Regions from separate parts of the Homo sapiens genome. Here regions 1, 2, 3, 4, 5 and 6 are each linked to region 7. The links come from fine-mapping of genetic effects on gene expression. A gene starts in region 7. Each other region holds a variant in brackets. All regions are shown on one strand. Distances are between the middles of the regions.

Region 1 (4,069 bases), 180 kb before region 7:
TCAAAAATGTTGGCTTCATCAATGGCTGTACACTCTCCTCCCTTTGAAATTCTTACCCTATTATTTGCCTAGTCCTACAGATTCTCTGCGAATTCTCTATTACTACACAAATTTAGCTTTCATTATTACTCATCAAAATATTACTTTTGTCTCTTTCATTGTCACCAATAGAATGCCTTCTCTACCTTCTCCAACCTATTTCATTATAAAGCTAGTTGTGCTTGCTTTCTAAAAAGTGGATATGCTTTTGCTTTCCTCCCAGTTTCCCCTCTGTTTAGATTTTTAATGGCTCCCGATTTTCTGTATTATCTAAATGCTCAGCATGTCCTACTGGACTTCACTACTACCTTTAAATAACAGCTCCCCGACCAGCTCTTGCCTAGACTCTCCTTGTGCCTTATATGAACAACAAATGTCTCTGTCTTAAGTTGGTTTCCCCAGAAGCAGATTCTGAGACAAAGATTTGAGTACCGGTGCTATATTATTTGGGAAATGATCCCGGGAAACAACAAATGTCTGGAGAGAGATAAAGAGAAGGAAAGAGAACCAATAATTTGTGCCTTGTCAAGCAGGTGTTAGAGGTAGGGCAACTGAGTTCAATCTCATTGGGGAGTCCTAAAAGATAATGAGGAACACTCTTCCTTATTATCCAACCCCAACCCCTCCTGCCTCCAAGGGCAAGGAAGGTAGAGTGTGTATTCTCCAATCCATTTGTCACTGGCCAAGAACTGCTACTGCATACATTCATCACTTACCATTTCCAGCCTGCCCAATAAAAAGAAAGTCTCAGGTAGAGAGTTACAGGTGATTCTAGCAGAATGCCAGAATGACATGGGTAGGCATTGATGCAGGACTGATTTTATGCACATACCACACAGCCTCACGTATACACTATTGTTGTACATAAACTGTTACTTGTGTAGGAACTCTCATTGTTGTTGTTCCAGTGAAATTCTACTCAATCTTTAAGCCCAATGTCAAAAGTCACTCTGATTCCATTTCTGAGGAAGAATTAATGATTCCTCCTGTACTTCCATAATACTTCCTTGGAGATTAAGATTTCAACTTGTACTCATGGTTCCACCTTTGTATCACTATGCAATGCAGTAATCTCCATTTGACAAATCAGGAAACAGTCAGAAAGATCATGCCAGAAATTACATGATTCCTAAAAGTTGGAGTGTGGAACTCCAACCTAGCCCTCTTAAAAATCTACTTTGCCCAATAAATCAGATATCCTCAACCTGAACTGACTATGTATCTGCTATATTAAATAATTAAAGACCAACTGGCCTAAATAAATGCCCTGCTATTCAGAGAACCAGCACTGCAATGTGGAACAGATCTACCTGCCTTATAAGCAAGAAGTCCAGTTTCTCCTTCTTCAGGCTCTTCACTCCTCTGGACTGTTCATAATCATGAGGGTTTCACAAACCAAAACAAGAACCTTACAAACTTCCACACTCAAGCCTGCAAAGACCCAGTATCTCAAGTAAGCACTTCCATTGGGTCTTGTTGCAGCATGGTGGACAATGGAATGTGGCCCCACAGTCTATTAGTCAATATTGGTCTCCTGCTATGGTCATCTCACTGCTCTAGATGCTTTCCAGCTGTTCTTCAAGGAAGCACACTGAAGCAGTAAGTGCTCAGTCCTTTCAGTCTCCTACACAGTCAACTCAGGGTGTTCTTAGTTCCAGGCAGCAGGACAGAATGGTTCAAGCACCTGTCACTTCGTATGAGTAGTGCTCTTTTTCCTTCCCTTCCTTTGCTTCTTATCCCCATCTCTTGAGCCATCATGTCAATATCACACTGGTTGTTCTTTTTAACTCTATTTACAGGTATGAATCTCAGCCCACAAATTCAGGTGAGCAAGAAATCTACAGTCTTTACATTATAAAACTTTATTTTTTGTTGTAAGAGCCGCCTTTCTCGCATGACTAGTGGGAAACTTAAACTCAGTCCCATTCATGATTTTCTGTCCCTTAGTGGGTTCTCAGAGAGTGCCTTGGGATTAAGGAGTGGGATCTCTCTTATCCTTAAGCATCTGTCCACACACAGACAGCTACTGAGACACCCTCTGTCTTTCTCCACACGGCCCCTCTGGCATGCTGGCTCACTCCTGCCAGGCACACTTGGGACATAAAACCTTTCTCTGAGTTTGTCCATGGAAACCATCTTCTCAAATACCCCATACAGTCATTTCCTCTCAGGGGTTTTCCAACACTCAACCTTACTTCTGTTGACTGAGGCCTTGGTCTCTACCACACAGGGACTTTTACAAACTATCTTGCTTTCTCCTTGCAAGTGGAGACACATCTCTCTAGTCTTACAGGCTTTAGTCCAGCTCTCCCTACTGCTTCTGGCCAAGATACTCTGTCCAGCCTGCCAATTCTCTCTTTTCTGTGGGGCTTTTAAAGGACAGATAAACTAACTAATAAAAAGCCAGAAA[T/G]ATTGGAGTGCCATTTGTTCTTTCTGCTTTTTAACACCCCTTCCCTGAGTTGAATGAGAGGAAGAGATCCCTGAGTTGAATGAGAGGAAGAGAATCAGAGATTCAGGGAGAAAACAATTCTAGATTAATATTACAAATGATTTCTCCAGATATACCTAGAAACACAAAGAAATAATTATAGCCATTTCATCCCATTGGGGTTGTTAACTCTGTCCTTACTCTACTTAAGCTAATATCCTAAATCCTTGTGCACTAATATCCTCTTTATATCCCACTTCCTCTCCAAAATATATCCTCTTTCCCTGCTCCTGTTCTTGTAGGAGTAATTCCAGAAGGCCCTGACCATCGCTCCCCTTTTAGGGAGGAATTGCTCCCTAAAAGTCCAAGGTGGTTTTCTGGCTACAAATGTATTCTCTAATGGGATAGTCTACATGAAACAACAGAAAACAAAATTAAATGTGTCAATTGATGTAACTTGATAAACCTTAATATCAACATATTTGCTACCAAAGGATGTGGAAAAAGGAGCAGGTGGAGATTAACCAGTGATTAGGAAACAAAATTCTGAGTCAGAACCTGGTCTTCTGTTTCAAACTTTATCCCTTCATCATAAAATACATGCATGTTTCTAGATAACGCAACCCTTTACTCTTTTCCAAAAGGGGAAAAATATCTCTGTGAGTGTCTATTCCTAAATTCTAACAAGTGTCATCTTAGAAAACAAACAAAAAAAAATTAGAAAATTGCTGAACAATCCTGCTAGCTGCTATTCAGTTATGAAGATCATAGTCATTCTGTTCGTGAGATACTCTAGAGATGTTATTCAGAGGCTGCTTAGGAGAAAAAAAAGAAAAATGCAAACTGTTAGATCTCAGTTAAATAACTGAGTTTATTGCAATTTAAGCTAATAGTTATTCAGTATTCAGTCAACTATTTGGTGCAAACAAATAAATATTCTTCCACTTGTTAGTCCCTAGGGGCTTTCTTAATCCTATCTGAATTTACTTTCTGTGAATTTCTGAGTAATCAGAAGTTATAGGTTGGATACATCTTGTGCTAGGGACACCCATGGTGTAACTGCTTCATTTTTTCTTTTCATTTCAAAGGAAATGGTCCATCCAAAGTGAAAATTGTTGTGTTTTATTTTTTTTTTTGGTGGTAGAGTATATTTTCCTCTTTGTTGGTGTTGTTATTGTTGCTGTTGTTTTAATCAGATAGTTATTTCAAACAGAAGCAATCAAGTTCCTTTTTTCACTGCCATCTCCCTCTACCCTTCCTACTCAATCCATGCTGTTAAGAAAATATCCTTGTTAGTAATGTGACATAAAGCAGCCTTAAAAATCCATAATTCAGCTGGGTCTAGTGGCTTGCACCTGTAATCACAGCATTTTGGGAGGCTGAGGTGGGAGGATCGATTGAGCTCAGGAATTCAAGGCTGCTGTGAGCCATGATCACACCACTGCACTTCAGCCTGGGTGACAGAGCCAAGACCCTGCCATAAAAAAAAAAAAAAAGATTCAGGCCCGGTTTGGTGGCTCACACCTGTAATCCCAGCACTTTGGGAGGCCTAGGCAGGCGGATCACCTGAGGTCAGAGTTCGAGACCAGCCTGGCCAACATG
Region 2 (4,069 bases), 23 kb before region 7:
CAAATTTGGAAGACTTCAACTACCTGATTTACAGACTTACCAAAGTTACAGTAATCATGATATTGTGGCACTGGCATAAGGCTCACCAAATAAATCAATGAATTAGGAACAAGAGATCAGACATTGAGCCACACTTATATAGTCATTTGATTTTAGACAAGGATGCTAAAGTAATCCATCAGAGAAAGGAAGTTTTTTCAACAAATGATGATATAAAAAAATTTTAAAACTGACAATAATAAATGTTGATGAGGATGTGGAGCAACTGAAATTCTCATACATTGTTGATGAGAGTATAAAGTGGAACTCTGGGAAAAGGTCTGGTAGTTTATCATAAAGTTAAACATAGAACCTACCTAGTCAACTCAGCAATGCCATACCTAAGTATTTACCCAAGAGGAAAAATATATATACATCCATAAAATGACTTACATTAATATATTCATAGCAGCTTTATTTACAGTTGCCAAAAAATTAGAAATAGCCCAGGTGTCCATCAACAGTAGAATGAACAAATTAAGCCTTCTAATAGCCTGCTTTCACTTCTGAACCCTTCTGGTACATTATGAAATAACAGCTAGATTGTTCTTTTAAAATATAAATTATATATCACTTCCCTAACATCCTGTTGTAGTTGGAATAAAGTCTGAACTCTTACCCTGTCTACAAGGTCCTAAGATCTAGCCTTACTTACCTCATATCCTACCACTTTCCTCATAAGCCAGCCTTCTTTCCCTTGAAAATAGTAAACTTCCATTTTCAAGGCCTGCACTTGCTGTTCCTCTATCTAGGGAGCCTGTATCCAGAATTTTATATAACTCTTTCTCATTTTTCTGGCTTTGGTTTAAATGTACCCTCTCCAGACCACCCCCAATTGCCTAACTGAAGTAGCTTTCTTTTTCCCCAATCTCTATTCAGTTACCCTTTCTTATTTCTTCATTGTACTTACCACAAACTAAAATTACCTTTTGTTATTTATATGCTTGTTGTCTTTCTTCCCAGGGCTCAGAGAAGGTGAAGTCTCTGAGCACAGAAACTATGTCCTGTTGACCAATATGTTCCCTAGTACCTAAAAGAATTCTTAATACATGGCAGGTACTCAATAAATACATGTTGACTAACTAGTTATTGGTATTCACAAGGTTGTCTTCAAATGTTAACACATTTGGAGCCCAATAAACAGTGACATTATTTATATCTTTCTTTCAAGGACTTAATTTAGATATTTGAAGAATTCAAGAAATTTGTAAGATCTTTTTTTCTTTCTTTTTTTTTTCTTCAGAGAAGTTTAGCAAGAAATATAAGACATTTCTTAATACCAGCTCAGGCAATTTTCTTCGAGTGGACATAATTAGTACATTGGTTCTGCCTATATTTGACTTGTGATCCTGTCAAGTTCATCAGTTAAACTGTAGAATTCATTTATTCTAATAAAGTCATCACAAATATACCCATTTTTAAAAGTGGACAAAATACACGAACTAGTAGCTTAGTACGTACCTACTGTGATGTTACCCATCTCGCTTTGTAATGTTATATTACCTGCCAAAAAGAAAAAGATACTTTTATGTACTAGAGACAATCTAGAAAGGAACTGTGATACATAGCAATGCTAAAACATGGATGAATATCTACAATGTTATTTTTGTTGGCAATTTTTCCCAATATCACAAGTCCAGTCAAAGATTGAGCTGTAGTTCTGAAATAACTGGCTTAGGTATCTCTGCAAACCTTCTTTCTCTACTACCAAACCTTAAGCTTTTATAGCATAACTACAAATCACCATAACTGCTGGCACAGAGGAAAAACAATACTTCTAAAACCTGTAAGTGAAAAAAATTACTGAAATGTAGTCACTGTACATTTTCAACCTAAATATCAATGTATTTATCAGACCACACAAAGCGAAGTTTTCAACCAAGTAACACTAAAATATGGTATGGAAAAAAAGAATTACTTTTATTTTTCAGGCCACTTGCCATGTCTATTAAATTAAAAGTAGTTTCTGGGCCAAGAATTAAAGTGGTTTGAGATAGGAATAATGAATACATGGAGGTATGACTAGCAAAACAGAACAAAGAAGCTTCAAAGATTTCCGTCTTAGTGAAAATATGTTTTCCATGATAAGTATGGAATATTGCAACCATTCTTCCCAGCCCCTTTCCCCTAATACCAAAAGTAGTAGGATTATTCTTCATATGTGTGTTTGTACGTGTAAGTATTCCTAGAATCAGGAACTCATATTTATTCTACTGAAAATATAAGCAATAATGTTATCTCTTCTAAAATAATTCCAAAACTACACTAAAAAGTAAAGGAATAACTTTGGCCTCAGAATTAATCTTCAGTAAACTCATTTTATCTCATTTCATATACCTTATGAATACTGACTTGTATCAGTATCTGGGAAAAACCAAAAAAAGGCACTGGATTCATTTACTCAATAGCCAGATGCGCCTAATTGCAAAAATCCATCTGAAGGTCTAATATACCATCATATTTCCTGTGAGTATATGAACAAGGAGTATATTT[G/A]TGTATGAATAAAAACTTGGTTTGTGTACTGAAGCTTATAAGATTACTAATTTTTTTTTTCATATTTTAGATTCAGGGGATACATGTGCAGGTTTGTTACCTGGGTATATTGTGTGATGTTGAAGTCTGGGGTACAAATGATCCCATCACCCAGGTACTAAGCATAGTACCCAATAGTTTTTCAACCCTTGCCCCGTCCCTCCATCCCCCATCTAGTAGACTCCAGTTTCTATTGTTGCCATCTTTATGTCCATAATTATCCAATGTTTACCCCCCACTTATAGGTAAGAACATGTGGTATTTGATTTTCTATTCCTGTGTTAATTCGCTTAGGATAATGGCTTCCAACCGCATCCATGCTGCTGCAAAGGATATAATTTCATTCTTCTTTATGGCCGCATAGTATTCCATGGTGTATATGTACCACATTCTCTTTATCCAGTCCACCACTGATGGGCACATAGGTTGATTCCATGTCTTTGCTATTGTGAATAGAGCTTCAGTGAATATGTTGAGTGCATGTGTCTTTTTGGAAGAATGATTTATTTTCTTTTGTGTATATATCCAGTAATGGAATTGCTGGGTTGAATGGTGGTTCTGTTTTAAGTTCTTTGAGAAATCTTCAAACTGCTTTCCACAGTGGCTGAACTAATTTACATTCCCACCAACAGTGTATGAGTGTTCCCCTTTCTCCACAGCCTCGCCAGCGTCTGCTGTTTTTTTACTTATTTTTAATAATAGCCATTCTGACTGGTGTGAGATGATATCTCATTGTGGTTTTGATTTGCATTTCTCTGATGACTAGTGATTTGGAGCAGTTTTTCATGTTTGTTGGTTTCTTGTACGTCTTCTCTTGAGAAATGAGCAAAATGTCCTGTCTTTTGCTCATTTTTAATAGGGTTATTAGTTTTTTGCTTATTGATTTGTTTAACTTCCTTGAAGATTCAAAGGAACAAAGGATATTAAACCTTTGTCAGATACAGAGTTTGCAAATATTTTCTCCCATTCTGTAGGTTGTCTATTTACTCTGTTCATAATTTCTTTTGCAGTGCAGAAGCTCTTTCATTTAATTAGATCCCAATGAGGCAAGTCTAGGAGGACAGGAATCACATCTTTCTTATTTAGCTTCATACCTGGGAACTTTGCACAGTGCATAGTACATAGTAAACACAATTATTTTGTGAACAAATAAAAAGTTTGGAAAAGTAGGTAAAGAGCAACCTGTGGTAGAACCACAGAGTGCTAAGTCTACTGACTATCCTACACCAAAAAAGTTAGTGAAGAATTTCAAGATGGATAAAAATACAAGAAAACCATGCTTTAAGGAGATTCACCTAGTGTGAGACAGTGGGTGTTTCCATTCTCAGCATTCTCTTTACTGCTTGTTGTGGTTTGAACGTTCCCACAAAAGTTCATGTGTTGGAAACTTAGTCCCCAGTGCAGCAATACTGTGAGGTGGGACCTTTGGGAGGTAATTGGGTCATGAGGGCTCTACCCTCATGAATGGATTAACCCATTCATGAATCAATGGATTAAT
Region 3 (4,069 bases), 130 kb after region 7:
AGGCAAAGGACATAAATAGACATTTTTCAAAAGCAGACAAATGGCTAAGAATCAAATGAAAAAAGTTCATCACTAATCAGAGAAATGCAAATTAAAACCACAATGATATATCATTTTATACCAGTCAGAATAGCTATTATTAAAAAGATAAAAAATAAGATGTTGGCGGAGTGCTGAGTAAAGGGAACACTTATACATTGTTGCTAGGAATGTGATTGGTACAAGCTCTATGGAAAACAGCATGGATATTTCTCAAAGAACTAAAAATAGAACTACTAATCCATCTGGCAATCCTACTATTGGCTATATACCCAAGAAAAAGAAATCATATCCAAAAGATACCTGCGCTCATATGTTTATTGCAACACTATTCACAATAGCAAAGATAAGGCATCAACCTAAGTGTCTGTCAAGAGATTGGATAAAGAAAATGTGACATATATATACAATGGAATACTATTCAGTCATAAAATGAAATCATGTATTTTGCAGTAATATGGATGGAACTGAAGGCCGTTATCTTAAGTGAAAAAAACTCACAAACAGAAAGCCAAATACCACATGTTCTCATAAGTGGGAGCTAAGTAATGTGTACACGTGGACGTAGAGTGTGGACTAGTAGATACTGGAGACTTAGAAGGGTGGGAGGACAGAAGGAGGGTGAAGGATGAGAAATGACTTAATGGGTATACATGTATATAATTTGAGTGATGGTTGTACCAAAAGCCCTGACGTCACCACACTGCAATATATCCATGTAACAAAACTGCACTTGTATCCCTTAAATGTATACAAATGAGAAAACCTGGTGTGCATGTGCTTTTAGCTCATGTTCCTAGATCTATGGACTAGTGGGATCTGGTTATTTGTTATAACCAGTGGACATAATTGTCTGTGTATTCATTTATTTCATATGATTTTCCAAGTGTGATCAATACAAACTTTAAAATCTTTCCATATCGGGAAATCATATGACTTCTTTGGCACTTAATAGTTAGTCATTAAATAAAGAATAGCAAGAAAAATGAAAAATATTTCTCTAGATTTCTTCAGGAAATCTGGTCAATAAAACAGTTCAAAATACGGTTATTGGAAGAAACACGCAATTATATCGAACTCATTTTGTTTAGAACATTCAAGCTATTTGAAGCAATTTCCAAAATGTCATTCTAGCATCGTGTCCTCTCATCTTATTAGTTAAAATAAAAATATAAACTTTTTTTGTATTTTCTCATGAATAAGTGAACAAAACCATATGTTCCCATTCACTGTCTGTACTTTCTAATGTTTTTATTTCTTTTGTTTGTTAATCTCAATTTACAATGATGACTGGCTTTTAGAAAAACTGACATTTCTTTCTATAGATGCCAAGTATATCCAATTGATTGATGGGATTATTGAGTTTGACTATGTCCTTAACTGATCTTCTGACTTCTGGATCTGTGCACTTTTGATAGAGGGATGTTGAAGTCTCCAGCTGTGAGAGTGGATTCATCTACTTCTCCTTGCACTTCTATCAGTTTTGCCTCATGTATTTTGATGTTCTGTT[G/T]TTAGGTGCAAATATATTAAGAATCCACTGGCCGGGCGCTGTGGCTGTCACCTGTAATCCCAGCACTTTGAAAGGCTGAGGCAGTCAGATCACGAAGTCGAGATCAAGACCATCCTGGCCAACATGGTGAAACCCTGTCTCTACTAAAAATACAAAAATTAGCTGGGCGTGGTGGTGCACACCTGTAGTCCCAGCTACTCGGGAGGCTGAGGCAGGAGATTCTCTTGAACCCAGGAGGCGGAGGTTGCAGTGAGCCGAGATCGCACCACTGCACTCCAGCCTGGCGACAGATTGAGACTCTGTCTCAAAAAAAAAAAAAAAAAAAAAGAATTCATTAGGTCTTCTCAGAGGATTGACTCTTTTATCATTATATAATGCCCCTCTTTGTCTCTGATAACTTTTTCTTGCTCTGAAGTTCGTTCTGTCTGAAATTAATTTAGTGACTCATCTTTTTTTAATGTTAGCATGGCATATCTTTCTCTATCCATTTACTTTTAATATATATGTGTCTTTATATTTAAACTGGATTATTGGCAAACACAGCATATAATTTGAGTCTTGTTTTTGTTTGTTTGTTTTTCTTTTTGGATCCATTGTGACAATCTTTTAACTGACATTTAAAATGATTACTGTTGTAGTTGGGTTAATATCTTCTGCCATATTTTCACTGTTCTCTATTTGTTGTGCTTGTTCTTCATTCCTGTTTTTGTTCTCTCTTTTTATGCCTTTTGTGGTTTTAACTAAGCATTTAATATAATTCCATTTTCTCTCCTTTCTTAGTATATCAGTTGTACATCTTTTTTTACTTTAAGTGGTTGCCATGGAGTTTGCAATATACATTTACAACTAATTTAAGACCATTTTCAAATAACACTATACCACTTCAAGTACTTTTTAAGTAACAAAATAGTCCTATTCCTCCTTCCTATCCCTTGTATCATTGCTGTCATTCATTTCACTTACACATGGGCATACATAAATATATATGCATATGTAATTGAATACATTGCTGCTGTTATAAATTTGAACAGTGTTATCGAGTATCTCAAGAATAAGACAAAAGCTTTTCTTTTACCTTCACTGATTCCATAGCTAATGCTCTTCATTTGTGTAGAACTGAGTTTCTGACCTATATAATTTTCCTTCCCTCTAAAGAGCTTCCTTTAACATTTCTTGCAAAGCAGGTCTATTGACAAACAAATGTCCTCAATTTTTATCTGAGAAAGGCTTTATTTCTCCTTTACTTTGGAGAATAATTTCACAAGGTACAGAGCTTTAGTTTGGTGGTTTTTTCTCTCAACACTTTAAATATTTCACTCTACTCTCTTCTTGCATGTATGGCTTCTGAGGAGAAATCGGATGTAATTCTTTGTTCCTCCATAGGTAAGTGTGTTTTTCCTGTAACTTCTCTCAGGAATTTTCATTATCTTTGACTTTCTGTAATTTACATATGATATGTCTAAGTGTTCTTTGAGCTTCCTCGATCTGTAGTTTATTTTCCTGCATTAATTTGAAGGAAATTCTCAGACATTATTGCTTCAGGAATTTCTCGTGTTCCTTTCTTTCTTCTCCTGGTATTCCTCTTATGAGTATTTATGCCTTTTGTAGTTGTCCCAGAGTTCTTGGATATTCTGGTATTTTCCTAGTCTTTTTTTTTTTTTTTTCCAGTTTGGGTAGTGTCTAGTAAGATATCCTCAAGCTCAGAGATTCCTTCCTCAGCCAAGTTCGTTCTGTTAGTAAGCCTATTAGAGGCATTCTTCATTTCTGATACAGTGATTTTGATCTCTGGTATTTGTGTGTGTGTGTGTGTGTGTGTGTGTGTGTGTGTGTGTGTGTGTGTGTGTGTTTGGTTGTTTGTTTTTGAGACATAGTCTCACTCTGTCCAGGCTGGAGTACAGTGGCACAATCTCGGCTCACTGCAACCTCTGCCTCCCAGGTTCAAGATAATCTCCTGCCTCAGCTTCCTGAGTAGCTGGGATTACAAGTGGCCGCCAATACGCCCAGCTAATTTTTGTATTTTTTGTAGAGATGGGATTTCACCATATTGGCCAGGCTGGTCTTGAACTCCTGACCTCAAGTTATCTGCCCGCCTCAGCCTCCCAAAGTGCTGGGATTACAGGCATGAACCACCATGCCTGGCTGAGTATTTCTTTTTTATTATTTCTTAGAATTTCCTTCTCTCTACTTAAACTGCCCATTTCGGGATTGAGTTTATCTGTTAGCGTTCTTAGCCTATTAGTCATAGTTGTTTTAAATTCCTGATAATTCACACATCCCTGCCATATCTGGTTCTGATGGTTGCTCTGTCTCTTCAGATTGTGTTTTTTGCCTTTCAGTGTGCCTTGCAGTTTTTTTCTTGATAGCCAGACACGATGTACTGGGTAAAAGGAATTGCTTTAAATAGGACTTCAGGAACATGGTGGTAAGGTGTGGAGGGAGGGGAGCATTCTACAGTGTTGTGATTAGGTCTCAGTAGCAGAGGTCATATGTAATGGGAGCCCACAGGAGCCAAAATTCTGG
Region 4 (4,069 bases), 170 kb before region 7:
AAAGTGAACGCAAGTTTATTAAGACAGTAGAGGAATGAAAGAATGACCATTCCATAGACAGAGCAGCCCCGAGGGTGGCTGGTTACCCATTTTTATGATTATTTCTTGATGATATGCTAAACAAGGGGTGGATTATTCATGCCTCCCCTTTTTAGACCACATAGGGTAACTTCCTGACGTTGCCATGGCATTTGTAAACTGTCATGAAGCTGGTGGGAGTGTAGCAGTGAGGACGACCAGAGGTCACTCTCGTCGCCATCTTGGTCTTGGTGGGTTTTAACCGGCTTCTTCACTGCAACCTGTTTTATTTATTTATTTATTTATTTATTTATTTATTTATTTATATATTTTTTGAAACGGAGTCTCGCTCTGTCACGCAGGCTGGAGTGCAGTACCGCGATCTCGGCTCACTGCAAGCTCCGCCTCCCGGGTTCACGCCATTGTCCTGCCTCAGCCTCCCGAGTAGCTGGGACTGCAGGTGCCCGCCACCATATCCAACTAATTTTTTGTATTTTTAGTAGAGACGGGATTTCACCGTGTTAGCCAGGATGGTCTCGATCTCCTGACCTTGTGATCCGCTCGCCTCAGCCTCCCAAAGTGCTGGGATTACAGGCGTGAGCCACCGTGCCCGGCCATCACTGCAACCTGTTTTATCAGCAAGGTCTTTATGACCTGTATCTTGTGCCAACCTCCCATCTCATCCTGTGACTTAGAATGCCTTTACCATCTGGGAATGCAGCCCAATAGGTCTCAGCCTCATTTTATCCAGCCCCTATTCAAAATGGAGTTGCTCTGGTTCACCCGCCTCTGACAATAGTAGAAGTTAAAAAAAAAAAATAACTTCTTTAACTCCACTCCAGGTGGCATTTCTTAGTGCCTCTGAAGGTTCTGATCTAGAACCAGCCCCCAGCTCACCCAGAGCAAGGAAAGATCATGAAAACCCAAGCAGAAGCAAGACACTGGGTTCCAGCATCAATGCTAAGGGCTAGAACATTTTCTGATGTTTTGCTTGGAAAGGCAGAATTTGGTTGTCTAGTGCGTCCACTAATTGGCCTCCATCTGACACCCTGGAGGGATGGGCTGATTAGAAGCCACAGCTGCTTTGCTCATTATTTCTGATGAATGGACATCACCTGGCGTCTCCGGTGATGGCGCCAGCTCAGGACCCAGGTGTGACCTGCACAACAAAGAAAAGCAAGATAGCTTTGCAGCCAACATGGTGAAACCCCATCTCTATTAAAAATACAAAAAAAAAAAAATTAGCCGGACGTGGTGGCGGGCGCCTGTAATCCCAGCTACTCAGTAGGCTGAGGCAGGAGAATCGCTTAAATCTAGGAGGCAGAGGTTGCAGTGAGCCAAGATCATGCCACTGCACTCCAGCCTTGGCGACACAGAGAGACTCTGTCTCAAAAAAAAAAAAAAAAAAAAAAAGATGGCTTTACAGCCCTGAGGAGTAAACCAGTCTTCCCCAAATAATTATCTTATGTAAGTCCCAGCCCCTTGGAACATGTTTTGAAAGGGCTCACCCATCTGGGCAGGTGACTCACGCCTGTAATCCCTGCACTTTGGGAGGCTGAGGCAGGCGGATCACCTGAGGTCAGAAGTTCAAGACCAGCCTGGCCAACATGGCGAAACCCATCTCTACTAAAAATACAAAAATTAGCCAGGCATGGTGGGACACGCCTGTAGTCTCAGCTACTTGGGAGGCTGAGGCAGGAGAATCACTTGAATATGGGAGGTGGAAGTTGCAGTGAGCCGGGATCATACCATTGCACTCTAGCTTGGGCAAGAAGAGTGAAACCCCATCTCAAAAACAAAAGAAAAGGCTCACCCTTTTCACTGGTTCCCTTGTGGCAAATCTAAAATAAGGTACGTGTGCTCGCCGTTCATTCATCTGAAAAGTTCTAACAGTTTGCAAATACCCTCTAC[C/A]CATACCCCACCCCCACGTGTTGTCCTTTTTTTTTTTTTTTTTTATTTGAGACAGAGTCTCACTCTGTTGCCCAGGCTGGAGTGCAGTGGCGCAATCTCGGCTCACTGCAAGCTCTGCCTCCCGGGTTCACGCCATTCTCCTGCCTCAGCCTCCCAAGTAGCTGGGACTACAGGCGCCCGCCACCATGCCCGGCTAATTTTATTTTATTTTATTTTTGTATTTTTAGTAGAGACGGGGTTTCTCCATGTTAGCCAGGATGGTCTTGATCTCCTGACCTTGTGATCCGCCCGCCTCGGCCTCCCAAAGTGCTAGGATTACAGGCATGAGACACCGCACCCGGCCCTTTTTTTTTTAAGAGACAAGATGTCACCCTGTCACCCAGGCTGGAATGCAGTGGTGTCGTCATAGCTCACTGCAGCCTGGACCCCCTGGGCTCAAGTGATCCTCCTGCCTCAGTCTCCCAAGTAGCTGGGACCACAGGGGTGTCCCACCACACCCAGCTAATTTTTTTATTTTTTGTAGAGATGGGGTCTTGTCTTGTCACCCAGGCTGGTCTTAAACTTCTGAGCTCAAGCGATCCTCCCACTTGGACCTAGCCAGGTGCTGGGATTATGGGTATTAGAGTTTAAATTTCTTTGCTCAACACCACTCCCCATTTTGTGGCCAACAGTCACATTCTTTCTTGGGCCACGTCATTCATTTTCAGTTGCTTCAGAGCACTGGTGGCCCCTTGGGTGTGTTGAACAAACCCCAGCCTTTGAGGAGTTCAAAAAAAAAAAAAAAAAGACACCATCTCTAGGCGGAAAATTTCAGACAAAGAACCCCTGCCAGGAATATTTCCTGCCGCTGCTCCTGCCACTGCCCCTTAGGCTGTGGACCTTTATGCAAGAACGCAAGTGGCAAACTGCCCTACTGTGTATGTTGTGGGGAGTGGGGGTACTGCCAGAGAGGAGAGAGCCCTATTTTATTTTATTTTATTTTATTTTAAAGACAGAGTCTCACTCTGTTGCCCAGGCTGGAGTGCAATGGCACGATCTCGGCTCACTGCAACCTCTGCCCCCTGGGTTCAAGAGATTCTCCTCCCTCAGCCTCCCCAGTAGCTGGGATTACAGGCGCATGCCACCACGCCTGGCTAATTTTTGTATTTTTAGTGGAGACGGGGTTTCCCCATGTTGGCCAAACTCCTGACCTTATGTGATCCTCCCACCTTGGCCTCCCAAAGTGCTGGGATTAGAGGCATGAGCCACTGCGCCCAGCTGACAGCCCTCTCTAAATCTTTAAAAATTCAGTCAGGCGTGGTGGCTCATGCCTGTAATCTCAGCACTTTAGGAGGCTGAGGCAAGAGGAATGTGTGAGCCCAGGAGTTTGAGACCAACTTGGGCAATATGGTGAGACCCTATCTTGACAGAAAATACAAAAATCAGCCTGGCATGGTGGTGCACGCTTGTAGTCCCAGCTACTCAGGAGGCTGAGGCAGGAAGATCACTTGAACCCAGGAGGTCGAGGCTGCAGTGAGCTATGATCACGCCACTGTACTCCAGCCTGGGAGACACTGTCTCAAAAAATAAATAAATAAAATCTTTAACAATTCTTCAGCTTATCCCCCTACCTTCTGGGGCTTCTTGGGTCTCTTCCCAGAAACTTTCTTCGTCTGTAAGCCCGTTTATTGTATGCAATTGTTTAAAAAACACAAATGGGTGCATATTCTCATATTCTCTACCCTCTATTTTGAACGTTCCTTTTTTTTCTTTTTTTCAGACCGAGTCTCAGTCTGTCACCCAGGCTAGTGCAATGGTGCAATTTTGGCTCACTACACCCTCTGCCTCCCAGATTCAAGCGATTCTCCTGCCTCAGCCTCCCGAGTAGGTGGATTACAGGTGTGCACCGCTGCACCCAGCTAATTTTTGTATTTTTAGTAGAGACGAGGTTTCACCATGTTGGCCAGACTGGTCTTGAACTCCTGATCTCAGGTGATCCACCTGCCTCCGCCTCCCAAAGTGCTGGGATTATAGGCATGAGCCGCCTTGCCTGGCTCAAAGTTCCTTTTTGGTTTAACAATAGATCTAGGCCACTGTGAGTCTTCCTCATTCCTTCTAGGGCTACCTAGTGTTCCGGGGTTATTTAACCAGCCCCCTCCTA
Region 5 (4,069 bases), 41 kb before region 7:
TTAAATTTGCCACACATGGGTAGAGGACAAAACTTAGAATCAAGACTCTCATGAAGATTATAGAATGCAGCCCCAATACACACTTGTGCATAGCTTTTTAGTAGGTAAATGTTTCAGCCTGAGAGTCTCAGGTTTCCTTTTGACCTCAGAATAGCACATAATACGTGTAAATCATGGTAGGAATTATACACCTGAGTTTATTTATCAGTGACAGCAATAGCAAAGGAAACCATGGAGCAGGAAATCAAATAAAATTATAGAGCTGACACATCAAAACCCTGTGGGAAGCTGGAACCTAAGGGAATAATTTTACTGGCATGGCTTCTTGCAGAGATTATCCAGAAGTCATGCTGCAGATAAAATCCAGGCTCTTAGCAATAAGAGTATTTCTATTTTTATCCCTCATGGGCTCTATGAGGAAGGCCAAGATGAGCTGAGCTCAGCTGCCTATAATAATAGCTCACATATAAAGCTGCTTATTATTTCCAAAATTTGGTTTCAGATTGGAAATCTCCATAGAAAAAAGCAATCTGCCCTGATTTTCTAGGCCTCTTAAATTATTTCATCCAGTTGATACATAAGGCCTGTGGCTGACTGGGTACCAAACAGTTTTAAAACCAAAATGAAATATGGAAGTTTCTCTTAAACCCAATCACCTGTTCATACTCACAGCTCCCTCCAGAGACTGCTGCTCTCTTCACCTGAGGTCCATTATTACTTTAATGGATTTAATTTGCTATCAGAGACAACATACAGATCCATCTGGGGACCAACCTCATAGGGTAGTCTGTGCTACTCTGCAAAACGATGCTTGATCAGTACCTAGATTCTTCCACCGTGAACAGGAAATAAACTCATCATTCTGCGATTTGGCCCTTCCTGCTTCAGGAGGTGGGGCCGGAGTATAAGCCATAATAACAAGTAACACACAAAAAGAACTCAGTAGGCTAAGGCGCTTCATAATAACCAATGAGGTAAGCATGCATCTTCCTCATAGCATTCATTCATCTTTATATTCAAGCAAAAGTTACTGAAGGCCTATTTATTTGCTGAGTTTAAGATAGCTCACTATGGAGTCCAGGCCCCTGTACTCCTTCTGCTGAATTACTGCAGTAACCTCCTAAAAAGCAAAAGTTGTTTTTTTCTCCTTCATCCACCATTGTTCTTTCTCATCTATCCCCACTCAACATTCAGAGTGATCTTTCTAACACAAAAATCTGATTATGTGAACCCCAAGTTAAAACCTTCCAAGGGCTTCCCAATGCTCTTAATATAAAATCCAAACTGTCCCATATGATCTGACCTCTCCCAAACTCTCCAGCCTACTTTTATGCCACTTTCCCCTTTACTCTCTATAGTTTGGCCATATTTGACTCCTCTCACTTCCTCACCCCTGTGTTCTCACAGTACAATGTACATACGTTTATAACATTGATCCCACTGTACTGTATTCTCTGGTTTGCCTTTCCTCACTAGAATGTAAGCTCCTCAGAAGGCAGTGAGACCATGCTTTATATTACCCTTGCACTCCTAGTTTCCGGCAGTGTTGACTCAAACATTTGTTGAGTAACTGAGCAAATAAAGAAAAATAGAAAAGACAGGAGAAGGAAGAGGTAGGCTAGGGGAAGATAATTTTGTTTTTAAACATTAAGTTTTAGGTGGCACTGGTTTAGTGGAATAGAAATGCACAAGAACAATAGAGATCAGGTCTGCATGTATTGACTTGGAAGTTATGTACATAGAAATAATGACTGAAGTTGTGAGAATAGTTTTAAAACAATCTAAATTTTAGAAAGGCATATGATTCCATGAATAAATGAATAAAAATATGACAAAATAGCTTTAGCTTATAATTCAAACATGCTTACATATGCCAATAATTTTGGTTATGCTATGATTCAGAGCACAGTTAAACAAACTTGTATTATTGTTTTAGATTATTGGGACCAAAAATAGGTAACTCTCTTGGCTCCTTATCAAATTCAAGCATTAGATCACAAGTTGATTCTCACTATATTTGATACCCAGTCACACACTGCATAATTATGTTTCAGTCAACGATGAACTACAGAAATGATGGTTGTCCCATAAGATTATAATAGAGGTAAAAAACTCCTATCACCTAGTGACTTCGTAGCCATCCTAATGGTTGTTTAAATGCAATGCACTACCTGCATTTGTGGTGATGCTGGTGTAAACAAACCCACTCCACTGTCATAAAAAAGTATAGCACATA[T/C]GTTATGTGTAGTTCATAATACTTGATAATGAGAATAAATGACCGTGTTACTGATTTATGTATTTACTATACTTTTTATCGTTAGAGTGTATATCTTCTGCTTATTAAAAAAAAAAAAAAAAGTTACGATACAACAGCCTCAGGCAAGTCCTTCAGGAAGTATTCCAGAAGAAGGCATTATCATCACAGGAGATGACAGCTCCACGTGTGTTATTGCCCCTGAAGGCCTTTCAGTGGGACAAGATGTGGAGGTGAAAGTGATACTGACATTCTTTACCCAGTAAAAGCCTAGACTAATGTGTGTGTTTGTGTCTTCGTTTTTAACAAAGTTTAAAAAGTAAAATTTAAAAAAATTAACAATTTTAAAAACAGAAAAAAGCTTACAGAATAAAGATAGACAAGTATATCTCTACAGCTGTAAAGTGTGTTTGTGTTTCAAGCTAAGTATTATTACAAAAGAGTCAAAAAGTTTTTTATTTTATTTTATTTTTTTCTGAGAGGGAGTCTCGCTCTTGCTCAGACTGGAGGGCAGTGGCGCGATATTGGCTCATTGCACCCTCTGCCTCCTGGTTTCAAGGGATTCTTTTTCCTCAGCCTCCTGAGTAGCTGAGATTACAGGCGCCCGCCACCACGCCCGGCTAATTTTTGTATTTTAGTAGAAATGGGGGTTTCACCATGTTGGTCACGCTGGTCTGGAACTCCTGACCTCAAACGATCTGCCCACCTCGGCCTCCCAAAGTGCTGGGATTACAGGCGTAAGCCACCGTGCCCAGCCTCAAAAAATTTTTTAAAATGTAAGTTTATAAAGTAAAAATGTTCTTTGGGAAGTTGAGGTGGGAGGATCACTTAAGGCCAGGAGCTGAAGACAAGCCTGGGAAACATAGCAAGGCCTTGTCTCTGCTAAAAACTTTTTAAAAATTAGCTGGGCATGGTAGTGCACACCTGCAACCTAGCTACTAGGGAGGCTGAGGCAGAAGGATCACTTGAGCCCAGAGTTTGAGTTTATAGTGAGCTATAATTGCACTCCAGTCTATGCAACAGAGAAAGCAGCTATCTCTAGAATAAATAAAGTAAAAAAGTTACAGTAAACTAAGGCTAATTTATTATTGAAGAAACTTAAAAATAAATTTAGTGTAGCCTAACTGTACAGTGTTTATAAAGTCTATAGTAGTAATGTCCTAGGCCTTCACATGCACTCACCACTCATCATACTGACTCACTCAGAGCAACTTCCAGTCCTACAAGCTCCACTTATGGTAAGTGCCCTATACAGGCGTACCATGTTTTATCTTTTATACCAGATTTTTACTGTACCTTTTCTATATATAGATATACAAATACCATTGTGTTACAATTCCCTACAGTTTTCAGTACAGTAGCCTGCTGTACAGGGTGTAGCCTAGGAATAATAGGCTACTACACAGCCTCAGTGTATAGTAGGCTGTACCATCTAGGTTTGTATAAGTTCACTCTATAATGTTCACATGACAACAAAATTGCCTAATAACACATTTCTCAGAATGTATCTCTGTCATTAAGTGATGCATGACTGTACTTAGATTTTCATCAAATTTTTGCCACTTAACTATGGGTTTGCCCATTAAGTGGCATGCAGTTATATCTGGGAGTGTATAGGTATTATTTTTATTCCTGTTATGTTTTTTGTTAATATTCTATGAATTTTAACAGACAACTTTCTTAATTTTCACGACATATAAAATGAATACCTAAAACTGAAATTTGATCTTATGAAGACCACCCTCCCCTACTCCCCAATTCTTCCTTTTTCTAGTTGGCATCTCATGGATTTAGCTTGTAGCATTCATCCCTATA
Region 6 (4,069 bases), 160 kb after region 7:
AGAAAACAATCAAATCGTTTGTTAACCAACATCCCCTGATTGTAGATGTAAAGCATCTCATGTGTTGTGGGAGGCAATACGTTATAGCAGATTGGTGAAAGAGGTGGTGTCCAGACTCAAATACCACCCCTCCCACTTATTACCTCTGTAACCTTGGACAAGCTGCTTTGTCTCTCTGAGCTCACTTTCCTTATCCATACCATATTTCATGCGACATTTTACTGTGAAATGAGCTAATTCATATAAAAACACTCAGAAAAGCGTCTGGCAAATGGTTGTTTTCTTCATTTATTATTTACCATGTGCCAAGATCTTCTGGACTCTTTCACCTATGTTAGTAAACAGTACACGATCAGGGTATAATCTAATTTTCTGATGGCCATTATTGCCCAGTTTCCTTCAACAAAGCAATTATAAAGTGGCCTCATTTCAGGGGTCGGGGGTGGATGAAAAGAAAAATATGATTTCCTAATCAGGTTCTCATCCAACTTGAAAATAAAATACATTTATAGAGGCCATGCATTCATTCAGCATTTATTGTGGCCACAGGCTGAGTCAGGCACCACCTTATGTCCAGTGGACATTATTGGATATAACCATCTCTGTCCTCAAGACAGCAGTCTCCTGAGAATGACAATAAATGAATGACTGCAGTCTCTCGCTTTGATAAAGGGGGTCAGCAGAACATTGGGGGGAAAAGGAAAGATGTTCTAATCTGGAGCAGAGAAAATCTGAGACCTGGAAGGATTATGAAAATTCCTGAAGAGTATCATAAGATGAATATCATTATTACTAGTATCATTTCAAGGGCTACACTAAAGCAAGGTCTGCTTTGATAGTGCTTGTGTTTCAGAAGCCTTCATTCCTTTTAAATAAACTAAAGAAAATTATAATCTTACCCATTGTCTTATTACTTTAAAAGAAAGCTACAAAATTCCATGCTGAAACACGCCAACAATGTTACCATCAGAGAGAGCATGCAAAACGATGTGCGCAAAATTGTATCAAAACTTCAGGAAATGAAAGAAAAGAAGGAAGCCCAGTTAAATAACATTGACAGACTTGCCAACACGATCACAATGATCGAAGAGGAGATGGTGCAGCTTCGCAAAAGATACGAAAAAGCTGTTCAGCATCGAAATGAAAGGTAAAAACCAGGTGTGAGAACAGAGCACCAGGGATCCAACTGAGGAATGTCACCTCTTTTTCTATCTAGACTTGACAGTGAATAGTGAGGGAAATGTGATATTCAGGTTGCATTAGCCTTTGGAGAGAAGGGACTGTGTGTTGCTTCCCTGGAAAATAAGAAACACTGTCCTCACGCTGGGCACAGTGGCATGATCCCAGCACTTTGGGAGGCCAAGGTGGGTGGATCACTTGAGCTCAGGAGTTCGAGACCAGCCTGGGCAATAGGGTGAAACCCCATCCCTACTAAAAATACAAGAAATTAGCCAGGTGTGGTGGTGGGGGCCTGTAATCCCAGCTACTTGGGAAGCTGCAGCACGAGAATCGCTTGAACCCGGGAGGCAGAGGTTGCAGTGAGCTGAGATCG[T/C]GCCACTGCACTATAGCCTGGGCAACAGAGCAAGACTCCGTCTCCAAAAACAAACAAAAAAAAAAAAAGAGAGAAAGAAAGAAATACCGTCCTATGTCATAAACAGGCAAAGAGGAGGGGTTTGGGAAAGTTGCTTGCTTTTGAAGATCAATGTCCTTTCCTAAGTGGTCATTCGGGTTGCCTCTTATAACATCAGATTCTTTCAGCATAATTGACATAAATAAGTGTGGAACTTGTACCCAATGTTGTGGTAAGTTTGGTCTTATTATATTTAGCCATTCTCCTAGTTCATTTGCTCAGCAAGTTAGTAAGACCTTTAGGAGTAGCATTATTTCTTCCAGGTTGCAGTTATATCATTAATCAATGTTTACTTCAGCAGTTTCTCCCAAGTTACTTGTGCTCTGAGAAATTGGAATGTGAAATTTGCAGAGCCCTGTGATAATGACATCTGGTATCAGATTTTTTTTAAGCAAACTTTGATTGTGTGCTATTCTGTATAAGGCATTAGAGTGCTAGACCTTGAGAGTACAAAAAAGTGGTAAAACATTGTTCCTGGCTTCTGTTGTCAAGAGAACTTGATCTTGAGCCTTTGAAAGGAAAACAGACAAAATATAGAGCTGGGATTAGCTGAGTACAACCACATGCATGCATGTTTTGAGGAAGGGGAGTCATAGATAGAAGCAATTAAAGGAGGAACTCTGAAATAATGTATATGCATAATGTGTGGGAAGACCTTTAGGGTCCTTTGAAGAACAGCACATTTTCAAAGGGCTGGTAGGTTTTTCTCCAGGGGAGAAAAAAAATGCTATTCAGCTCCTGGCACAAACCAAAGCGTTTGGACAAACAGTGTGCACCCAGGTGCCACTCAGATCAGTGGTGCATGATCGGTCATGCAGACCAGAGCTGCTGGGGTTAGAACATTCTTACTTTGTTTCCTCCCCATATTCTCCATTCAAGGAGGGGTCTTTCTCCTGGCATGATTACAAAGGATAGATTTTTGCCTGTTTATGGGGAAATCACAACCAGAAATATTCAACTTGAGAAGAAACTAATGGGCCTAGCAACTTAATATAGAGCAGACTCACACCAGAACTACATTCCCTGGCCCCCTGCCTGTGTGCTTCTGGCCAGGCCTTGGTTGGCAAGTCTGACCCGAGAAAAGGATCTGCAGAAAATCAGACTATGGGATCACTTTGTTTGTGCATTGGGAATGACATTCTTTCCCACCCCAGGAAAACCTTTGGGACTTTCAGAGACATTGTGGCTAGCCAACCACATGGTCAGCCTCAAAGTTGAGAGGCTCAGTAACCCTCCTATCCCTAGAGAATTCCAAAGTGTGGATGTAATTTAACTAGAAAGCCATTGGTGACTATCTGTGATCCTCTGGAAGTATGCTATGTTGTGTATATCTTGCATCCAAAGCCAGAGGGAACCACAATGACTAGTAAAACGGTGGTCTCAATGCCCACTTAGCCTCTGCCTCTGAATTTGACCATAGTGGCGTTCAGCTGATAGAGCGGGAAGAAGAAATATGCATTTTTTATGAAAAAATAAATATCCAAGAGAAGATGAAACTAAATGGAGAAATTGAAATACATCTACTGGAAGAAAAGATCCAATTCCTGAAAATGAAGATTGCTGAGAAGCAAAGACAAATTTGTGTGACCCAGAAATTACTGCCAGCCAAGAGGTCCCTGGATGCCGACCTAGCTGTGCTCCAAATTCAGGTGGGTGAGTGATCACGGGACACTTCCTCAGACCATTTATTTTTTTCTGCCTTTATTAGTTTGTGGGTGAGTTCTTGCATGTAAACCAAGCCATACTATTTCTGGGACCTATAAGAATCCATCCATCTTGTTTAAAAATACATTTGAATGCTACTCTAGGATGGAATCTGTGCTTCAGGCATCCAGGCTACACATTGTCTTTTTTTCTTATGAAGCATTTTCTGCTTTTCTTGGAATTTGAAGACTCCCAGGACTTATCTCTAGCTCAGCTTCCTCATAGCTCAAAATTTAGTGATCTAGACTCTCACTACCCTCAGCATAATTATGTCGTTGCTGCTTGCTGGACAGATCTTGAGGATGAGCCAGCACTCTTACTTTTGATACTCTGGCCCCCAGAGCAAGAGATTGTCTGGAGATTGTTGCTTATTAGTAGTTGTCAGTTACATATAACTTGATTCTTTATTAACCACTGTAGTTCTATGATAGCTTAGTAACCTGGCCTTTGACATGGCCTTTTTTAAAGTGGAATAGATCCAAAAAACTAAAACATGAAATAACAAAATAAATAAAATGTGAATATAAAGTTACTTTCTTCACATGTGTTACTTGGGGTTTATTCTTCATAGAATTTTTTTAAAAATTAAAATAAAAACTGTGTAGCCTAAACTTGTTCCCATTGACCAATGTAGCAGGAACAAATTCTAACCTATAATATTTTTTTTTAAATGTCAGGTTTGCGTTTGGATTTTTTTTCCTGATAAAAAGTTAAGACATTTGGTGAATGAAATTT
Region 7 (4,069 bases):
TTAGCCAGGCATGGTAGCATGCACCTGTAGTCCCAGCTACTCAGGAGGCGGAGGCGAGAAGATTGCTTAAAACCGTGAAGTCAAGACTGCAGTGGGCCATGATTGTGCACCTGTACTCCAGCCTGCATGGCAGAGTGAGTGAGATGCAGTCTCAAAAAAAACCAAAACAAACAAACAAAAAACCCCACAAGATTGTGGACAAATGGCAGTGGTACATGAAGCAAGTTTGGAAAATAAGGAATTACAAATGCCATCCTTGGCTGTCTATTTAAGATGTAACTGCAGGCATCGCTGTATACAAATTTTAAAAATTAAAAACGCTGATATTTAATTTGGAATTAACATAAATATTGATGATTTCTCTTAAAGTAGGCAAGACCCGCCCCCCCGACTTGATTCCTGAAACCACAAATAGTACCAAATCCTATATATTCTATGTTTTTTCCTGTATACATATCAATGATCAAGTTTAATTTATAAACTAGGCATAGTAAGAGATGAACAACAATAATAATAAATACAGCAATTATAACAATATACTGTAATAAAAGTTATATTACTGTGATCTGTCAAAATATCTTAATATTTTCCTACAACAGTTGAGGCAGGTAACAAACTCAGACAGCCAAACGGTGGATAAGGGAGGACTACGGCATCTACTATTTGGGCAACTGTAAGCATTATAAAAGATGATCTTAAAAATGCTAAATGCTATTATTATTACCATCATCATCATCATCAATATCTTCCTTCAGTCCCAGGAAGAATGACAGTCTGGGGAGCCCTTCCTAGAAAAGTGTGTGTACACAGTGGCTTGCCATTTAGGAAAACCTAAGAAAGGTATCTTGCAGGCATTATTATTGAAGCTTCCTAGGCAGGCTTACCATGTGTTTTTCTTCAAAGCTTGCTACTCATGGAAAACTTAGGCCAAAAAGAATGGAAACATAACAGTAAGAAGCTGGGCGCCCGTCTAAAACCAAATACTCAAACCAGGTGGTACCTGGAACATCCTATTGACAGGGCTGTTTTGGGACACACCCCCAGGCTGTGAGCAAGGGGAAATGTAGATGGACTGCCATACCATTGAATGAATTGTCAAGAAACTTCAACCTTGAAAAATAAGCCAGTTTGCTAATGACAACGGGATAAAGAAGAACACAAGCGGCTCCAGAAATAGAATTTGACCTGGATTATACCAAATCGTGTTTCCATTCGATGTATAAAATTTCTATAATTGGGAACCTAATTTTTTAAATACTACTCGGATACTCAAGAATAGAACAGAGGAAAAGTTGCATTTCCGAAGGGGCCAACTGTAAATTAGGTTTAGAAAGCCAGGACCAATTAAAAGTGCACGTCGACCAAATTTATTAAGTTCACTGTGCGTTCCCTGGGACCCAAACCCGTTTTCACTTCACTTCACTTGCCAAACTTCAGGGGCGCGTTCACCTCCACGGACGCCTGGGGGTGGATAGTATCAGACACAATGGCCATCTCCTCCAGATCCTCGTCGTACTTCACCTGCAGGCCGTCCAGGCCCCGCACGCCGCCCTCCACGCCGCACACCGCGACCAGCACGCGGTCGCCATCCGGGTAGGTGAGGGGGTCCAGGGGCCTCACGGCCAGGTGGCACGGGAGCCGCGCCCGCAGCCGACCGAACGGGCTCACCTGCAGTGTCCACTCCTTCAGAGTTCGGCGCGCCGGGCCAGGCGGAGGGACCTCAGTCTCCGATCCGGGCCAGCGCTCGCCCCTACCTGAGCTGTACGGCCTGGCTTGGCAAGCCCAGCAAGACCAGCGCCCAGCGCCAGCCCACAGTCGGACCTGACGGAGACAGAGACGGAAGCAGCCAAGCTCCCAACCTGAACAGGGGGCAAGCATGGCGCGCCTCTCTCGCCAGTCCTCAGAACACTTCAGCCACAGGGAGGGTCACTTGCCACGGCCAATCGACTTGGCCACTGTGCCGCCTCAAGTCAAATAGGAGACGTAAGTCAGGGTTTGCTGAAACAAGAGCGAGCCGGTTGGCTTGACTAGGCGATGTAAACATCAGCTGCGTAATCCCCAGGGGCAAGTTGGGATTTGAAAGCTCTGAACTCTGACCTGGACCCCTTGCCTAAGTCCACCCCCTTTCGCTAAGGCCGACGGGATACGTAGTTCTAAAGCGGTGGAAAGTCGCAGAGCTCCGCCTCTTAGAAACCACATATCCCAGGAGGCAATGCGCAGGGGAGCACGGGTAAGAGGGCAGGTGTTAGAATCGCTGGAAAGGCGGGCGCCCTTTGTTTCAAGACCATTGGCTATTGGAGGGGCGGTACATGGGAGGCCACTGGCCAATGGGAAGCACGGAAGGGGGCAACGAGGGTAAAGCTGCATGGTCACCTTGGATACCAAGGACGCGACTTCTTGTTTGGAGAGGGTGGAGCTTTGGAGTGAGACCCAGGAGGCCAAATCCCAAAGAGAAAAATAGGAGCCTAAATAAGGATCAGGACCAAGGGAAGGGGTAAGAAACTGCGCTTTTTAAGTTGACAACTAGGTGCAAACTAGGAGTAACCTATGTGGATGTCAAGATCCAAGCTTCACTAACCTAGTGCGGGCATCTCCAGGGCATGGAGAATGCCTTGGTAAGAGAGTAAAGAGCAAGATTGGTGCTTTTTGAGGGAATTGCCTCTTTGGAAGTGTATTCCCTCCTATATTCCAAATATAGGAATAGAGTACTTGCTCCGTCCTGACCCTAAGTGACCTTACTTTGGGTTTTAATTTGCTCACTTTAAAAATGTAGATGATAATACCTTCCTTGCCTTGCCTCAAAGGGTTTTTGTGAGGATCAAGTAAGAAAATGGATGGGACCGTGGTGCACAGTCTACCAAATTACCGTGTAAAGTACTGTATTTTTATTTCAACGTACTTAACATTGATTCTGAGTTACCAAGAAAATTATGAGAGATCAGAACTTGTTTTGAGAATAGCATTGATCTCTTTGACTACAAATGATCATCAGTTTTAGAGTGAAAAAAAAAAAGACACAAAAAAGAGAGTCACCATGGTGCGGTGGAAAGAGCAGGGACAAGGGTCAGATTATTTTCCTGGCTCTGCCACTGCTTCATCTGTGTCACCTAGACCTGTTTCTTTAGTTTTAAAATGAAGAAAGATGGTTCTAAATGACCCTATAAGGTGTGTGTGTGTGTGTGTGTGTGTGTGTGTGTGTGTGTGTGTGTGTGTGTGTGTTTACCTTTTATAATTCTATGGGCAGTAAAATAATGGGAACAGAAAGATTTATTTTCTTCTTTTTTTCTTCTTTCCTGCCTGGTTTCTCTCTCCCCCTCTGTGCCCCTACTTCCTCCTAAAATGTATTCCCTAAATTATTTAGCCAAGACACCTGCAAACACTAACATTTCATAAAATGCAAGTGCCTTAAAAAATTGAAGCCCTTACCCAAGTACAATGACCAGAATTCTTGGGGCTATCGTGATAGATAGACTGGGCTAAAGTTCTCATGGGTACAAGTCTCAGGTTCTCTGCTAGCCACTACCTTTTTAAAATTTTTAAAAATTCAGTGTTCTCTTAAGTTATCATTGCCTCTTTTCTGTCCTTCTAGTCCTTGCTCCCTCCTTATTCTTCTTTCGGTGAAGACTCACTCATTATAGGTGCTAGCTCAGGTTCAGCAAGGGCCCACTGCAATAGTTCTTTTCTTGTCTTTGTGTTTCATTGGTTATAATTATTCAGAATAATCTTCAAACTATTTTTTATGAAAATTGACAGGTGTAACTTTGAAAAGAAATTTGAAAAAGGCACTGGTTTAAGGAAGTTGAGAATGTACTCAAATTTTCTGTAGAAACACTAGACATTTTTAGATTAAATATTAATTCTTAATAGTTAATTCTGTGTCTATGGTAATTTTTCCGTTTCTGAGACAAACTAAGTTAATGGAATTGGCAACTGAACTATAATTTTCTATGTTGCATAATCATTATTTTACTTTTTCAAACAAAAACCAAATAGAATTGACTGAAAATTTACTTTGCTGATCATACAAGGTTGAAAATGGAGAAAATTATTAATATTAAGATTGGTATAA

The links. PIP is the estimated chance that this variant, and not a neighbour inherited with it, causes the effect.
Region 1: its variant is fine-mapped to the expression of CCDC146 in skeletal muscle (GTEx, PIP 0.96). The same link has a PIP of 0.9 or more in spleen.
Region 2: its variant is fine-mapped to the expression of CCDC146 in sun-exposed skin (GTEx, PIP above 0.99).
Region 3: its variant is fine-mapped to the expression of CCDC146 in whole blood (TOPMed, PIP above 0.99).
Region 4: its variant is fine-mapped to the expression of CCDC146 in tibial nerve (GTEx, PIP above 0.99).
Region 5: its variant is fine-mapped to the expression of CCDC146 in tibial nerve (GTEx, PIP 0.99).
Region 6: its variant is fine-mapped to the expression of CCDC146 in whole blood (TOPMed, PIP above 0.99).

Annotation. Positions count from the first base shown.
Region 1 is chr7:76,942,492-76,946,560 of GRCh38, forward strand. No RefSeq gene overlaps it. Among named protein-coding and RNA genes, the nearest start is that of SPDYE17, 88 kb to the right of the region's middle. The variant T/G (reference allele first, on the strand shown) is at 2,450.
Region 2 is chr7:77,097,410-77,101,478 of GRCh38, forward strand. It overlaps the pseudogene FAM185BP. Among named protein-coding and RNA genes, the nearest start is that of CCDC146, 23 kb to the right of the region's middle. The variant G/A (reference allele first, on the strand shown) is at 2,533.
Region 3 is chr7:77,247,632-77,251,700 of GRCh38, forward strand. The region is part of intron 4 of CCDC146 (coiled-coil domain containing 146); the gene reads left to right. CCDC146-AS1 (CCDC146 antisense RNA 1) reads right to left here and starts at 1,077. Exons shown (of 2, transcript XR_007060387.1): 1 at 1-1,077. The variant G/T (reference allele first, on the strand shown) is at 1,550.
Region 4 is chr7:76,952,712-76,956,780 of GRCh38, forward strand. No RefSeq gene overlaps it. Among named protein-coding and RNA genes, the nearest start is that of SPDYE17, 78 kb to the right of the region's middle. RefSeq lists an enhancer at 1,554-2,420 and a silencer at 2,388-2,588. The variant C/A (reference allele first, on the strand shown) is at 1,930.
Region 5 is chr7:77,078,926-77,082,994 of GRCh38, forward strand. It overlaps the pseudogene FAM185BP. Among named protein-coding and RNA genes, the nearest start is that of SPDYE18, 18 kb to the left of the region's middle. The variant T/C (reference allele first, on the strand shown) is at 2,237.
Region 6 is chr7:77,279,507-77,283,575 of GRCh38, forward strand. It overlaps CCDC146 (coiled-coil domain containing 146), which reads left to right. Exons shown (of 19, transcript NM_020879.3): 14 at 923-1,147; 15 at 3,051-3,279. Among named protein-coding and RNA genes, the nearest start is that of CCDC146-AS1, 33 kb to the left of the region's middle. The variant T/C (reference allele first, on the strand shown) is at 1,553.
Region 7 is chr7:77,120,239-77,124,307 of GRCh38, forward strand. CCDC146 (coiled-coil domain containing 146) reads left to right here and starts at 2,377. Exons shown (of 19, transcript NM_020879.3): 1 at 2,377-2,494. It also overlaps the pseudogene FAM185BP. RefSeq lists enhancers at 1,166-1,667, 1,668-2,167 and a silencer at 2,063-2,162.